Linked DNA regions of Homo sapiens: region 1 is linked to region 2. Evidence: fine-mapped expression QTL. A gene starts in region 2. The other region holds a variant in brackets. All regions are shown on one strand. Distances are between the middles of the regions.

Region 1 (8,706 bases), 49 kb before region 2:
GATTGCTGAGAAAGACAAAGAAGTGGTATGAGTTACGGAGTTCTGCTGGCTAAGCTAGAGATCACCAGCCAGTGACAATGCCCCCAACAAAAGAGACACTTCTTCAGTGCACCCTAATCTCAACCTAAGCCAGTTTTCCTGTCACCATGCTTCTTAAACTTTAATATGCATACAAGTCACTGAGGATCTATTAAAATTCACATTCTGGTTCAGTAGGCCTAGGGCGGGGCTGAGAGTCAGCATTTCTAACAAGCTCCCACCTAATACTACTGGTACTTGAATAGCAAGGCCCTATGAAATTAGAGCACAGACCATCAAAACCGAAAAAACAGAGCCTCTCACTCTGCTAGGAGAGAAGAACAAATAGCTCTAAGAGTTGAAGGAGGAAACATATTAGAAGCAGGGGAGAAAATGAAATGAGTGCTCAAGAATCTGGCTGGGGCCGGGCGCAGTGGCTCATGTCTGTAATCCCAGCACTTTAGGGAGGCCGAGGCAGGTGGATCACCTGAGCTCAGGAGTTTGAGACCAGCCTGGCCAACAAGGTGAAACCCCGTCTCTACTAAAAATACAAAAAAATCAGCCAGGCATGGTGGTGCACACCTATAATCCCAGCTACTTGGGAGGCTGAGACAGGAGAATCACTTGAACCCAGGAGGCAGAGGTTGCAGTGAGCCAAGATCATGCTATTGCACTCCAGCCTAGGGGACAGAGTGAGACCCTGTCTTCAAAAAAAAAAAAAAAAAAAGAAGAAGAAGAAGAAGAAAAAAAGAATCTGAACTCTCAAGCTAAAACACTGGTTAAAAACCAACTTACTTGATCATGTGGTTGGCATAAGCTCGAGAACAGCAGGTGCTATAGCGACACAGAGAGCAGTGTACGTAAGTAGGGAAATGATTAGGGAAGTCTGGGATCTCGAAGCTGCACTCCAGGCATGTCTGCCGGCCCATGACACTCCTGTGGGGGAAAAAAAAAAAGAATTCTCATTACTGCCTCATGGGTCCCCAAAATGTAGGATTTTCAGACAACAAACCCTGCTAAAAAGCTACCAGATTGCACTGTGTATCAGGAATAATCCTGGCCACCCAGTCCCCACCCGCCCAGCACTTAGAAGAAGGCGCTGACATTTTCCTAACAGCTCTCTTCTGGATGCTGCGCTGGACAGGGGGATAAAGGAAGACAGGCAGAGGGTCCATTGAGGAGGTCAGCGGTGCTGCCTCCTGCAAGGCGCTGGGAGGTGTATCATTAGAGGATACAGGAACAGTTCGTGGCTGCCCTCGGGAAGCCCGGATTGTCACCTGAGAACCAAGGGAAGTAACAATGAGACATCACCCACACTAAATTTCAGAATACTGAAAATCTCTATTCCTCCCTCCCTGGGCCTATAAAAGACACTGGCAAACTCTTTACCTTGGTGCCTGGTTTCAAGCCCTCCAGCTGCTTGGGTTTACGGAAGGTTTTATGGTGTTGAAGCTTGTGTTCAATTTTGTCCTTGGCAAAGAGAAACTGCAGCCGGCATTTGTTGCAGTGATAAACATTTCTCTTCTGAAGTGGGGGAGGGAAAAAAAGAGACAAAATCCCTTAAAGGTTCCTAATAAATTTTCTTTTTTGAGGAGAAAGCAGATCAATGTCAACCATATCATTCTTCCCACCTTTCTGTTGATAATTTAAGAGAGTAAGAAAGAAATATGCAACATGACCACAAAACCTACCATTGAGAATCATCACCTCCCATGATATCAAAGAAAGATGGATTCTAGTCCAGGATGACTAAGTTCTCAAATCATCCTTTCCTGACTTGTTTTAACAATTTGAATGAGTGATGTAACCTTTATTTGTATTATATCTTTACACTGCTGACAACTGGACATTCTTCTGGACATTCTTCATTCTTCTTTTTTTAAAAAAGGACAATGTACATAGTAAACTAAAGTCATACTTTTTTTTCTATACTCTTCCAACTTTGCTTTCAACTCCAACACTCAGTCCCCTTCCATACAAACAACTTATTACCAGTTTCCTGAGTATGCTTTCGTGGGCAGTCTACACATATAACTGTATCACAAATACATTCATATCCAATCATTACCTGCCTCGCCCCCTTTTTTTGAGACAGGGTCTCTCTCTGTAGCCCAGGCTGGAGTGCAGTGGCATGTTCATAGCTCACTGCACGTCCCAAGTAGCTGGGACTACAGGCACGTGCCACCACGCCCGGCTACTTTTTGTATTTTTTTGTAGAGACGGGGTGTCACCATGTTGCCCAGGCTGGTCTTCAACTCCTGGGTTCAAGTGATCTACCTGCCTTGGCCTCCCAAAGTGTTGGGATTACAGGCGTGCATCACTGTGCCTGGCCCTTACTTTTTTCCCTTTCCTTTTTGTAGAGATGTTGTCTCACCATGTTGCCCAGGCTGGACTCCACCTCCTGGGCTCAAGTGATCCTCCCACCTCAGCCCTCTTCTTTTTCTCCTTTTAACACAAATGATAGCACTTGTCTATACCTTGCTGTTTTCTCACTTAACACATCAGTATATACAGATATGTCTCCTGGTGAGACCACTTTGAGGATTCAGTCTGCCTAGTATTGAAGTCCTTCAAAAATAGAACCCATGTCTATGATTTTCTTTAGTAGGATAACAAAGCTCTGTAAGCTTAGGCTAAGAGACAATTTCCATGCCCCTATTTGGAAATACAGTTGTGGTAGACAATCAGCAGTCACTACTGTGCAAAGGAGACTATGAGTGTAATAGGGTACATATGTTTGTGTGCATATGTATGTGACTATTAAGCACACATGCACTCATCTTATTCTCCATTTTGAATCCTCTCTTATATACTATATACCTTTCACTCTCCTCTAGTGGCTCTCTTCTTGTAGTATTTTAAAACGAAGTCATAGCTTTTCATCTTATAAGGAAAATAAAAGCAATAAAAAACTCTTCTTTGCCACTTCTTCCTCTGGATTTACCTACCCTGGGTCCTCCCTTTTTATAAATAAACTTCTTTAAATACATCGTCTTCATTTCCTTACCTCTCATTCATTTGTTCTGCTGAAATGTGACTTCCACCCTACCAACCAACAAAATGGCTCTCATCAATGTTGCTAAATTAAAGGCCTGTTTCTAAGTCTCTATGTTGCTTGACACCTTCCTGTAACATATGACATTTTGATCACACCCTTTTCTTTAAAACACTTTCTTCTCCCCAGTTTCCTTAAGGTTAAGACTCTTCTGGTTTTCCTCCTAGTACTATGGTGGTTGCTTTATAGATAAGGGACTTCAAATATCCTAAGCCTTCTCTTATTCTCAACAGGGTTGGGGGGCCCATGGTATTTAAGTTTAAAATCTATAGGATTTATATAACGCTGATTCCTAAATCTTTTCTACAACCCAGAGTTCTCTCACAGGCTTGAGATCTATTATCCAACAGCTACACTTGACATCCACAGATACTGCTAACTTACAATATCCAAGCTCATGATCTCCCCCCTCACAAATATACTTTCTCTATTGTTTCTATTTCAGCAAATAGTTCCCTCATTCACCCAACTGCCCAAGACAGAATCTTAGGCACTATTCTTAACTACTGCATTGCTACCTTCACCTAATCCATCTCTACATCATAAATATCACAAATCTTCTGAATATCTCTCAACTCTACCCTCTTTTTATTTCAAAAGCCAATAGCCACTATCATCTCTCACCTAAACTACTGAAAAAGGCCTTCTAGCTAGTTTCCCTAACTGTAGTCTCAATCTCCTTTAATCCATTCTCTGCAGTGCAGGCAGTATAAAGCCTTAACTAAAGCTGAACACATCACTCCAGGGCTTAAAACCCCTTTAGTGGCTTCCCAGTGAATTCTTTTCATGGCTTAAAAGATCCTCCATGATCTGTCCCTGCCTAACTTCCAACCCCTCTGTCTCTTACACCCTACACTGAATCTCTCTCAATTTCTTGAACCTCCACAATTTTGCTTTGTGCCTTGGGCACACTGTTCTTCGTCTTATTTCATCTGGCTCATTCTTATTCATCCCTCAGGTATTGAACAACACTTCTTTCTGGAAGCCTTACTAGGCACCCAGAATAGCTATGTGATTTTCTATATCCTATAATTTCCCCAACACAGTACTCTTCATGTTTTATTGTATTGTTTGCCTTGTTTACTACTAAATCTCTAGCATCTAGACTAGTACATGGCACATTAAGTGAATTCAATAAATTTCTGCAAACATATGCATATTATAATCTCTGCCCAAATTATTTGCCTAGCTCAGCCCTGGCCCCAGCATCCATGTTTAAAAAAAAAAAAAACAAGAGAATATGGGAATTGCTTGGTGCCTAGTACCTGGTGCCTCATGTAATGCTGTTGGAATGCATTGCCATTTTTGAAGACCTTCAGGCAATAAGGGCAGAGCAGATGCCGGGTATCCTCATGGATCATCCGAAAATGGACATCTACCTCAGAGTAGAGTGAGGAGCGATATTGACACACCTGAGTCACATAGGAGGGAAAATAAGGCTAAGAATGAAGTGAACAACTGAGAGGCCTTAAAAAAAAAGGTAGCAACAAAAATTTTTAAATTAAAAAAAAAAAGTTTTCTCAAATGCATAGAAATCAAATTATTTTCCTGACTTTGTAATGCTGGGCTATGTTTGTGATAGGTTTAGCTATTACTTTAAAAATAGGAAGGGACAGAAAGTCTAAGAATAATCCATGTTCTCTAACTAAGAAAAATAAAGCCTTTTCTGTCAATTTCCAAAGGGCACGTTCAGGAGACAGACACTCCCTTAGAATATGCACATGTTCCCGGCTAGTCTACTTGTGGACATGTTCTTTTATGTTTTTCTCCTGCATGGAAACCCTGAAGATAAACTGTGTTTACTATTTCTTCTGTACCTACTCAGAGTTCCTAAACTGAGTGTATGCAGTAGGTGGTCAACAATATTCATTAGTAAATTCTTTGTATTCTTCCTGAG[G/A]GCAAAACTGCTAAAACTCCCTGGAGAAAAAGGCAATACCTGGCAAACATAAGGCATCTCTCCAGGCTTATGAGTATCCTTCATATGCTGGAGAAATAGTGGCTCACTTTCAAACGCCCATTCACAGATCTTGCACTTGGCTGTAAGAAGAAAAGTAATCAATAAATCCACTTGAAAATAAGACAAAAGTCCTGCTGACTCACAATCTTTATTTTCTCTGCCTCCTTTATTTTGATTTTCAACAATCAGTAAATCATAGGTCCCTTCTGTTCTTTCTTTAAATGGCTCCACCTTAACATATATGTTGCTGATAATCTTATGTACGTAGCTCAGACTTCTTACCAAAGCTTCATTCTAGATTTTATCTATAAGACATTTTAAATTGGTTATTCTATCGTCAACTCTAACCTAATTCAGCATCCTCCTGTCTTACCACTGTTTCCCTTTTTCCTTTCCCCATTTCTTCCTGAGCTCAAAATTTAGGCACTATCTCGGATTCCAAACCCTGCATTCTGTCACCATTATTTCAAACTGCATGTAGGAACTGTCACTTCTCTATACTTATAATAAGGCAAAAACTTGGTACTAGCCCATATGATTTCCCACTGCTAATCAGCTGGCCTCCAATACCTCCTACTCTCTTTGAAATTGTCCATTTTGTCAAGCTTATGAGAAAAAATTTTGACAAAATTTTATGACACAAATGAACAATTTTGTCAAACTTCTGAGACAATTTTTGGTAATTTCATGTTGGCCAGGTTGGTCTCGAACTCCTGACCTCAGGTGATCTACCTGTCCCAGCCTCCCAAAGTGCTGGGATTATAGGTGTGAGCCACCGTGCCTGGGCTTTTTTTTTTTTTTTTTTTTTTAAGAGACAGAATCTCACTGTTGCTCAGGCTGGAGCATGATCATAGCTCACCGCAGCCTCCTGAGTAGCTAGGACTATCCTTTGAGCTCAAGCGAGCCTCCTGTTTCAGCCTCCCAAGTAGCTAGGACTACAGTGGTGCACCACCATGCCCAAGTAATTAAAAAAAATTTTTTTTTGTAGGGACAGGGTCTCGCCATGTTGCCCAGGCTGGTCGGAAACTCCTGGCCTCAAGCAATCCTTTTGTCAATCCACTTCAGTCTCCCAAAGTGCTAGAATTACAGGTGTGAGCCAGTGCACCGGCCAATTTTGGTAAGACTTTTAACTGCTACATATTTTTAATTATACAGTATGGCAAAAAGAGAGAGATTATTTACATTTTTGTCACTTTAATGGAATTAGTTTCAAGTTTTTGCAAATATGAAAACTGGAAGCTTAAAGCCTTGGGCATTTACTGGACAATGTCTAACCTCCCCCCGCCCCCAGCCCCCTACACCCCAGCCAAAGAAATATGAATAAAGTTGAAATAATTCTTTTTTCTTTTTTTAACTACCGAGAACCCTGGATTTTTGTTTTGAGACAGAGTCTCGTTCTGTCTCGCACGCTAGAGCGCAGTGGCTCAATCATGGCTCACTGCAACCCTGACCTCCCAAGCTCAAGCAATCCTCCCATCTCAGCCTCCCAAAGTACCAGAATTACAGGTATGAGCCACTGTGCCTAGCCAAGTAATTTTTTAAAGTAAAACAAACAAACAAAAGCCAGGGGTTCTTAATCTGGGGTCTATGGAACAGGCCTCTAGGAATCCAGGCTTTCTCTGAAATTATTTGCAAAAGAGTAAAATGTAGATTTTTCTAGGAAGAGGATTCAAACATTTCATATTTATTCTCAAAGAGGTCTGCAACTCCATTTAGAAACACTGTCTACAGGTACATTAGGTGCTATGAGGACATGGATAAATAAGAAATTCTGCATAAAGGAATGAGGAAAAGCTATAACAACATATAAAAGCTGAATTGTCAAAGAATGGGGCTCAGCCAGCCAGAGAGAGGACCAAGAGAAAAGCAGGAGGAAAGGCAAGTAGGTATGAAAGTTAACCACATGTTTGGGAAACAGTTAACTAGCAACATAACGATATTATCTCTTTTCCACTCACCCCCCGATTTGTTTACCTCTCTCATTTTTCTCTTCTAGAACACCTTTAAGCAATATTTTGTCCAGGCCTTTCTTAGTCTATGTTTTCCCTGGGCAATCTCATTCACTCTTTCTCCTATAACCTATTTATCAGCTCTATTTTCACAGCTGTCATGCAACATCAATAATAAAAACACTTATTAAGCAATTTCTAATGTACAAGCATCAGGTTAAGATTTACATGTGTTGGCTGGGCACGGTGGCTCATGCCTGTAATCCCAACACTTTGGGAGGCCAAGGCAGGCGGATCACCTGAGGTTGGGAGTTCAAGACAAGCCTGACCAACATGGAGAAACCCTGTCTCTACTAAAAATACAAAATCAGCCGGGCACAGTAATGCATGTCTGTAGTCCCAGCTACTTGGGAGGCTGAGGCAAGAGAATCGCTTGAAGCTGGGAGGCAGAGGCTGCGGTGAGCCAAGATGGCGCCACTACACTCCAGCCTGGGCAACAAGAGCGAAACTCCCTCAAAAAAAAGAAAAAAAAGATTTACATTGTGTTATCTCAAGAAAACTAGTGAGGTAGGAACTCAAATATAAGGGGATTTAAGAGATCTCTGGTAACCTTTGACACATCAGTTCTACAGGGGAAGGAGCTAATACAGAAAAAGATTCAAGAGGGAAAATGAATTGATTCTCCATGGTGGCTGTCCTAACTGTCCCTCTGAGCACCATCACCCTCCTTAACACCTAACACAATCTCCTACTTTGAGGAAATAGGCATGAACAACTGTAACTTCTGCTGCTTGTTTTCCAAATTATGGAAGGATAGATCTCTTGTACCTTCCTAAGGCTCATCCAACCTCATCATGCCATGTATTCCAAGATTTTGTCAATTTGTTTTCCCTGTCTTCAATCTTCCCCAACCCCGACAGGCTCCGACTCCTAAACATGGTTAAGCTCCTTAAAGCATCCTTCTCTCAATCCTATTTCTTCCTCAAACTTTCTCCTTTCCACTAACACAAGATTTTTTGAAAGATTAGAATAACCTACATCTGTTACCTTTAATGAGATGCTCAGGAAGTGGAGGTAACAATGCCAGGAAGAAAAATGTTATAATATTTGAAGAAATGGGCCGGGTGTGGTGGCTCACGCCTGTAATCCCAGCACTTTGGGAGGCCGAGGCCGGTGGATCACGAGTTCAGGAGATCGAGACCATTCTATCCTGGCTAACACGATGAAACCCCGTCTCTACTAAAAATGCAAAAAAATTAGCCGGGCGTGGTGGTGGGTGCCTGTAGTCCCAGCTACTCGGGAGGCTGAGGCAGAAGAATGGCGTGAACCCAGGAGACAGAGCTTGCAGTGAGCCGAGATCGCACCACTGCACTCCAGCCTGGGCAAAAGAGCGAGACTCCGTCTCAAAAAAAAAAAAAAAAAAAAGAATATTTGAAGAAATGTACCTTAAGATAGCCACTATGGAAAACAGGAATAATAACTAACAGTCTTAACCATTTTTTAGTCCCAAATCTCACACTAACAAAAGCTATGCAACCTCTCCCTTGAAAAATGCACACACACAGGCAAAGTTTATATGTAATTTCAAGGGGCTCACAGGACACCTCACCACCAAGCAGGTTAAGATTTCTGTATTAGACATAAATATTAAAAGACTATGAATCAGGGCCGGGTGCACTGGCTCACGCCTGTAATCTCAGAGCTTTGGGAGGCAGAGGCAGGCGGAT
Region 2 (8,706 bases):
TCATAAGGAAAGTCTTTTAAGTACTAGGAAGCTGTCAAACTCCAGCTGTCAACTTTTTAAAAATTCTAATTTTCACCCAAATTTTATCACTGGTAATAAATACTGTCAGTTGTTTTCCTAAAAGTGACAAGCTCACTTCATTTTCAAGAAATATCTGCCAAATACTAAGTGTGAAAAACCATAGTCTGCTAGTCGTTCTTTCAAGTAAAAATGCTACTCCATGAAATAAGCCATTCATTCACAACCCAATCTCACAAATGCTTTTCCTTCATGACAACAATCACACCTCCCTAGGCAGCATAAATGCTTTATCCATGTTTATTTAATCACAAATTCTTAAAAATTAAAAAGACATGTAGTCAAAAGCTAAGACTTAATAATAATAGGCCGGGCACGGTGGCTCATGCCTGTAATCCCAGCACTTTGGGACGCCGAGGCAGGTGGATCGCCTGAGGTCCGGAGTTCGAGACCAGCCTGGCCAACATGGCGAAACACTGTCTCTACTAAAAATACAACCAGGGAGGAAGAGATTGCAGTGAGCCGAGATAGTGCCACTGCACTCCACCCTGGGCGACAGAGCAAAACTCCGCCTCAAAAAAATAAAAATAGAATAATAAATTTTACTGCTTCAAGGGCATTCTCAAGTAGTTTGGTGCCCCTGACTTGCTTTGTGCTAAGGTACCGCCAGTAGTTTTACCCAGCCTTGCTTTTGAACCATCAGTGTATCAGTGAAAACAATAAATAGCATCTTACTATTATTTTGAAAATAGTTATGACCTTGAGGCTACCCTGAAAGGGTAAGAGGAGATCCCCATGGGTCATCTGTCCACACTTTGAGAACTGCTTTCCTACATTATACCACTAGTTCAAGATGGGAGTGGAAACTCTAACTAAATCAGGTTCGTCCCAAGAGTCCATTCTGTTACCTCCTTTAGTTTGAGATACACCACCAACACAGCTCTGGAAAAGGGAAGGAAATCAACGGCACAAGGTGTCACTTGTTTCAACATCTTGAACACTTTTATGTTAGACCAGTAATTCTCAATGTAGTGGTTACATTAATCAGTCTCAGCCCCAGGACTGCTCATTTGAAAATGTAAAGATGACAACCCCCCTCTGCTCCATTCAAATAAATTTGGGGGATGAGGCCCCCCAAATTGTACGTTTAACCACCTTCAAGTTACTTTTTATGCACCCCGAAGTTGAGAACGATTGTGCTAACAGTTCGAATTCAGAGTTCAAGCTCTCAGACCCTGAGCAATAGTGTCTCAAAATTAATCGTTTGCCAACGAGCAGCCCTCCCTGCCCCCTCCGTTTCCCTTTCCTCTAGTTGGGTAAATGCCTACAGAAGTAAAACCCGGCCGGGCGCGGTGGCTGACGCCTGTAATCCCAGCACTTTGGGAGGCCAAGGCGGGCGGATCACCTGAGGTCAGGCGTTCAAGACCAGCCTGGCCAACATGGTGAAACCTCGTCCCTACTAAAAATACAAAAATTAGCCGGGCGTGGTAGCACATGCCTGTAATCCCAGCTACTAGGAAGGCTGAGGCAGGAGAATCACTGGAACCCGGCAGGCGGAGGTTGCAGTGAGCAGAGATCGTGCCACTGCACACCAGCCTGGGCGACAAGAGTGAAACTTCGTCTCAAAAAAAAAAAAAAAAGTAAAACCCCATTTCTGTGGAGTTTTGAGCGGCGGTAAGAGGTGTCTACGGGCTTGGAAGGACGGGCTACACCGCTTGCATCAAGACGGCGGCTGCTGTGAGATAGTCCAACTGCATCTTAGTTTCCATTTCGAAAATGAGACTGGCCACTAAATGACTCTAAGGACTCATCAGCACTACCTTTTTCTGAACTAAGAATGTCTAAGACAAGTGCTACTAGCAGTTTGAGAGAATCCCACATCTGGAGAGGAAGGAAATAAGAACAACACGCAGAAAGACGGAAAACAAATAGATCAATGACAGTACTCCTTTGCAAAAGGTGCCAAGAATCTAAATAAAATAGTCCCCGGGATAAACATGGCGCCCACCGCGGCAGGACATAATCACCAGAAAATAAAGATTCCCCGCCTCATTCCATTTTATAAATCACGGCGCCATCCCAAAAGAAATTTGGGGACCGAGGGAGGAGACTTCGTAAACTAGCTGCAGTGCACTAAGGCTTAGGATGTACTATTAGACCAAGCAGAGATTACATAACACAAGGGATCGGCTCAGCAATCACTCATTTTCCTCCTCCCGCTCAAAACGAGCGCCCCACTCCTTCTCGGAGCGGGAATGGGGCGGGGAGGGCCGCGCACCCCCACCCCCAGGGGCCGCTCCGCCGCCGCCCGCCCCTCCGCCGCACGGCCTCGCCCCCTCGCCGGCCCCTCCCGCCGCGCCCCGCCGTCTCGCCACCGCCCGCGCCCCCGCCCCCGCCCCTTCCCCAGCGGGCCACCGCCCGCGCCCGCGCCGCCCACTCCTCCGAGACGCCTCGCGCCGAGCGTGCGTGTGGACGTCGGGCTGTGTGCGGGGCCGTGGGGCGCGAGTGCGCGCGCGCGCGCCGCGGCGGGCGCCGGGGGGCGGGGGCGGCCGGCCAGCCGGCAGGCAGGGACCTCCGCCGCCGGCCCTTCGCGCGGCTCCCGCGGCCCGGGGCGCACGCACACACACTCGCGCTCGCGCGCCGCACCCCGCGGCCGCCCCTGCCGCGGGCCGCGCCGCCACTCGCGGTGGGCGGGGGCGCGCACCGCCGGCCCCCCGCCCCCACCCCCGCGCGTACCGGCCCCATCCCCCTCTCATTGTCTCGCCTCTGAACGCCTCGCCGAGCGAAAAGATAACGGAACCCCCGGGAGCAGGGGGTGGGGAGAGAGAAGGCTCGCTCGCTCACTCACCTCCTGTGGTCGTCGCCGCCGGTAGTCTGACCCGAGGAAGGCGCCGTCGCCTTAAAGGGACCTTACACCCGGCGCCAGAAGGGGGTGGGAGCAGGGGGAGGGGACGGGGGCTTGGGGGGAGACGAAGAAGAGGTAACCGTTGAAAGCTCGTCTCCCCAAGGGTGAAAGGAAGCCTCCCTCGGGTTCGAGTGATTCGGGGTGGATTTTTTTCCCGAGGGGGGCGGGGGGGCCCCGAGGGAGGGGGGTGGGGGGGCCAAGGAATGCGGCTCCGTGTACGGGAGCTGGCGCGGGGGAGAGAGACGCCGACTCCCCCCACCGACCCTCTCGCCCCGCGGAGGGATACGGCTCGTCACTTCCGCCCTCCCCTTTTTCACGGCCTCCCAATTGGTCGGAGCGCGCTGCACGTCATGGGCTCATCCAAACCCCTGCCCGGGCTTCTTTTCTAGTCAAGTTTGGCTGGGCCTGCAAATAAATAAATAAAGGAAAACATTTTTTGTAATGAAAAAAGAATAATTAGCTTCAGAAGCTATATCTAAATTTTGGTGAGAAAAATGAGACTTCCAAAGAAAATATTCCCCAATTTACTTGCCAAGAGTTTCCAAGGAAGTGTTGGGAGGCTCCCCCACTTTCCACTCAAGGCTTAGACCCAGTCAAGAGGGAGACTTCATGACACAGGCCAGGTGGTGAGGCCCAGTGGCACCAACAACTGTCATTGGAACAAAGAACAAAATGGCACTCACTCTTTCTCAAGAGACACTCGGCCAAGTAACCTTGTGGCTGCGGCCTTGTTTAAGTGAAGAACTTTTAAAAGCCATTTTGATCCTCAAGCCCTTCTGGATCCTGGAAAGAAGTGGCACACGATTGTTAAAGCGATTATTGTGATGGAAACTGCTTTGCTCCCATTGTGAGTAGATTCAGCAGAGATCCCCAGTTCCAAGAAACCACACACACTCCACATCCTTATGCTTTTTGCTCCAATCAAGGCTGAGATGGGTTGGCTCAAAGAAATTGGTTAGTCCACTCAAACGACCATCCACCTGTTTATTCTTCCCCAGACAAAAACTACCTCTTTTCAGGTAGCTAAGAAATTTTGTCCTTTATTGCCTTCTGAGATTATAAAAATGTAATATTTTCCTTGAATATTTGAAAATGTTTGCTATTTAAGCAATACACAAATATTTGCTTCAAACCAAATGTGAAATCAAGGTACTTGGTGCAGAAAGGGGAAATCCAGAACTATGTTTATTTGTGCTCTTTATATACACACTCCATTCAAACCACCAGACTGAAAATAGGCAGTGGAAGTAGGCATTCCAAATTGTATGCACCTGCCCGTGTGAGTGTGCACATGTGCATACACATACACACACTGCCACCACCCAGTTTCATTCCATTTCATACCAAAACCATGTGAGTGATTTCCACTAGTGTAGGATGCTTAGGAAGGACTTCATTATTTGAATGAGAAGAATCACTAAATCCTTCTGAAAATACTTCTGAAGACTTTCCAGACCTGATCTGGAGAAGCCCATATTAGGATTATGGGATCAATCACCAAAAGACTACATGAAACTCAAATCCTATTTTATACTGTCGTGTAATTAGTATAATTCATTATATATGTTATATTTACATTATGTATATTACGTTATTAACCTTTGAAAAATTCCAACATATTTCCCCATGCCCTGTCAATTTATTCTCCCAGCCAATGAGATCTAGCGCAGACTATGCCATATACCGTTGACCAGTAACTGTTAGCATGCTTTATTGAAAATGGATCATGCATCCATTCATTCATTCAATGAATATTTATTGGGGGCTGGGCATGGTGGCTAACACCTGTAATCCCAACACTTTGGAAGGCCAAGGGAGGAGGATCACAGCAGTCTGAGGGCAGCCTGGGCAACTTAGCAACATCCCATCTCTACAAAAAAAAATTTTTTTTTTTTAAACAGAGTCTCGCTCTCTCCCCCAGGCTGGAGTGAAGTGGCGCGATCTCGGCTCACTGCAACCTCCGCCTGCTGGGTGCAATTCTCCTGCCTCAGCCTCCTGAGTAGCTGGGACTACAGGCGTGCGCCACGATGCCTGGCTAATTTTTTCTGTTTTTAGTAGAGACGGGGTTTCACCAAGCAGGCTGGTCTCGAACTCCTGACCTCGTGATCTGCCCGCCTCCGCCTCCCAAAGCGCTGGGATTACAGGCGTGAGCCACCGTGCCTGGCCCCAAAAAATTTTTTTCATTAGCTGGTTGTGGTATTCCTAGATACTTGGAAGACTTGGGAGGATCACTTGAGGCCAGGAGTTTGAGACTGCAGTGAGCTATGATGACACTACTTGCACTCTAGCCTGGGAGGGACAGAGCAAGATCCTGTCTCAAAAAAAAAAAAAAAATTATTGAGCACATGTACTAGGCACTGTTTTAGGTGCTGGGAATACAGCAGCAACAACAACAACAAATACCTGAATCTGTGGGATTTATACTCTAGAAGGAAAGAGACATAAAATATACACATAAACAAATTGTTCTATTGTCTATTGTTAAATAACAAATGACCCCGAACTTAGTGGCTTAAAACAACAATTTCATTACCTCTCATGGTTCTGGGAGGTAATTAGGCTCAGCTAAACAGTTCTCACTTGGGAGTCTCGTATGCAGTGGCTAGGGCTGAAGTAATCTCAAAAGCTTCCTTACATGTCTGGAAGTTGAGGTTGACTGTTGGCTTGGACCGCAGCTGGGGTTGTTGGCAGACCATTTACAAGTGGCTTCTCCATGTAGCCTGGGCTTCCTCATATCATAGTGGCTGAGTTCCAAGACTGAGTGCCCCAAAAGGACCAGACAGAGATCGTGACCTAGTCTCAGAGGTCATATAGTGTTACTTCCATTACAGTTACAGGATGGAGAGCATAGATCCCCATCTCTCAACGGGAATAGTGGAAATGTCACATTGTAAGAAAGTGTGCGGAAAGGGAAATCTTGTGGCCATCTTGGAAAATGCAATCTGATATACATTATGTAAATAAATATGGATTATATGAAATGGTGATAGGTGCTATGAAGGGTAAAGGGCAGGATAGGGGAATTAGGAGTGTGGTGCAGACATGGGGGTGGAGAATTTGCTATTTTATGTGGGGTGATTGGAGAAGTCCTTGTTAAGGTGACATTTGGGCAAAGACCTGAAGAAAGTGAAGCAAAGTTTAGGTTTTACCTGTAGTGAAAATGAAGCTGCTGGAGGATCATAAAGCAAGTAGTGACACGGCCTGACTCACGTTTTTAAAGGATCACTGTGGCTGCTTGTGAAGAATAACTAATAGAGGCAAGGGCAGATGCAGGGAGACCAGATAGAAGGCTATTGCAATAATCCAGGTGAGAGTTGATGGTAGCTTGGACCAGGATGGGAGTTGTGAAGCTGCTGCTTCAGGTGATTGAGTTCTGTGGTGTGTTACTTACTCCTCTCTATTTTTCTGTCATTTAGTTTGTGCCCTGGGAGACAGTTTTGACCCATAATGCCCAATAAAATGAGTGATGGTGCTATGCCTGCCACCAAGAATACAGAAAGTCTATCATGCTAAATGTAAAAGTGGGAGTTTTGCAGGATCTGGAGGCACCTTTGAGGAAATGGGTGAGGAAACAGAGGGTAAAGATCAACAGGCAATTAGGGAATGGAGTGTCTTTTGACGTTGTAAAAGGTATCCTGGCCAGGTGTGGTGGCTCATGCCTGTAATCCCAGCACTTTGGGAGGCCGAGGTGGGTGGATTACAAGATCAGGAGTTTGAGACCAGCCTGGCCAACATGGTGAAACCCCATCTCTACTAAAAATACAAAAATTAGCCAGGCGTGGTGGCACATGCCTGTAGTCCTAGCTACTCAGGAGGCTGAGGCAGGAGAATCGCTTGAACCCGGGAGGTGGAGGTTGCAGTGAGCCGAGATCACACCACATCACTCCAGCCTGGGTGACAGAGTGAGACTCCATCTCAAAGAAAAAAAAAAAAAAAGGAAATGATGAGCAAAGACATTTTATACCTTCAGAAGATTTCAAGGAAACTCTGCCACCTTACATTACAACACTGGTGCAGCACTTCAAAAGAGACTATACAGTTAACACTGCTATTTCCAGAAACGTATTCCTTGTGCTAAAGAGAGAATGCTCATATTAATTTGGACAGTGTTGGAACATTTTGCTTCTTCAGCTAAAACACAGGTTTCCAGAGTGAAGTAACAGAACTGATAGCTTTGGTCTCTCTTTTGGACCATCTGGATAATGGTTTGAACCATCTTGATGATGATGGGAAACCCAAGTAGTAGAACAAATAACCTGAATCAGATCCTTAGAAATCAACTCGTATGTGCCTCTGTAACATACTGGGGAGGAATCTGAAAGCCAATCCAGTCTGATATGTTGAAGAAATTTGATCCTAATAGTGGTACTCCTAAAAATTATTCCAGTCTTCAGTAGCCAACTTAGAAACTTTTTCTAAGAAAGAAAGTCAAAGGTTAATGGATGTCCCAAGCTGAGCTTTTCAGTTACATAGCTGGAGAGTGTTTCTTTTCTACAGTTTATGGAAATACTTACTTGCTTCCTTGACTTACGGTTTCTGCCACAAGTTGAAAATTGGGGCTGGGCACGGTGGCTCATGCCTGTAATCCCAGCACTTTGGGAGGCCAAGGCAGGCAGATCACCTGAGGTCTGGAGTTCAAGACCAGCCTGGCCAAAGGTCTTTAGTAGAGATGGTGAAACCCCATCTCTACTAAAAATACAAAAAATTAGCCAGGCGTGGTGGAACGCGCCTGTAATCTCAGCTATTTGGGAGGCTGAAGCAGGAGAATCACTTGAACCCAGGAGGTGGAGGCTGCAGTGAGCCAGGATTGCACCGAGCCAGGATTGCACCATTGCACTCCAGCCTGGGCAAGAAGAGTGAAACTCCATCAAAAAACAAACAAACAAACAACAACAACAAAACATACAAAAGAAAATTGGAACCACCTGTAGCTTGGAGAATGTTAAAGAAGAGAGACAAATGATTTCAGCATGTCTTCAAAAGCATTGAGTCATGGATGCCCTCGGTGGCATCATTTTGCTAAAATGCAGACCTAATCACTTATTGTTCAGGTTCAGCGTGAGGTTGACTGGTATGTGTTTGGGCGGGGAGTAGGGAGGCTCAGATGGTGAGGTTAGTCCAGGCAGAAATAAGCTTCGTGGGAGATAATGCCAGATTTCTTTAAGAAATGGGTAACAGCCGAACACGATGGCTCACGCCTGTAATCCCAACACTTTGGGAGGCGGAGGTGGGCAGATCACAAGGTCAGGAGTTTCAGACCAGCCTGACCAAAATAGTGAAACCCCGTCTCTACTAAAAATACAAAAAATTAGCCGGGTGTGGTAGTGCATGCCTGTAATCCCAGCTACCTGGGAGGCTGAGACAGGAGAATTGCTTGAACCTGGGAAGCGAAGGCTGCAGCAAGCCGAGATCACGCCACTGCATAGCATCCCGGGCCACAGTGTGAGACTTCGTCTCAAAAAAAAAAAAAAAAAAGAAAGAAAGAAATGGGTATCCCACTCTCTGTAATGCACACTCAGGATTGTCAAAGCTGGAACCTCAAAGAGAGCTACTCATTTCAGAAAACGTAAGAGAAAAACAGTAGAGACATTTTTACCATCTGAGCAGCTCCCAGGTGGAAAAGATGGATAGCTGATTGCACTGAGCCTGGGATTCAGCATGTGTATAAGTCAGCATGTGTGGTGGAAGGAAAACATTGAGGTGCTTAACTTGACAGGCAAATTGCCATGAAATAAAGGGCAAGTGGAGATCTACATTTGACCAATGTCAAATTAAAAAATGGG

What was found. PIP is the estimated chance that this variant, and not a neighbour inherited with it, causes the effect.
Region 1: its variant is fine-mapped to the expression of POGZ in whole blood (INTERVAL, PIP 0.93).

Annotation. Positions count from the first base shown.
Region 1 is chr1:151,407,287-151,415,992 of GRCh38, forward strand. POGZ (pogo transposable element derived with ZNF domain) reads right to left here. Exons shown (of 19, transcript NM_015100.4): 11 at 5,010-5,110; 12 at 4,339-4,485; 13 at 1,408-1,542; 14 at 1,123-1,295; 15 at 814-954; 16 at 1-5. Among named protein-coding and RNA genes, the nearest start is that of PSMB4, 12 kb to the left of the region's middle. The variant G/A (reference allele first, on the strand shown) is at 4,971.
Region 2 is chr1:151,456,286-151,464,991 of GRCh38, forward strand. It overlaps POGZ (pogo transposable element derived with ZNF domain), which reads right to left and starts at 3,209. Exons shown (of 19, transcript NM_015100.4): 1 at 2,867-3,209. RefSeq lists silencers at 2,310-2,359, 2,550-2,599 and an enhancer at 3,430-3,479.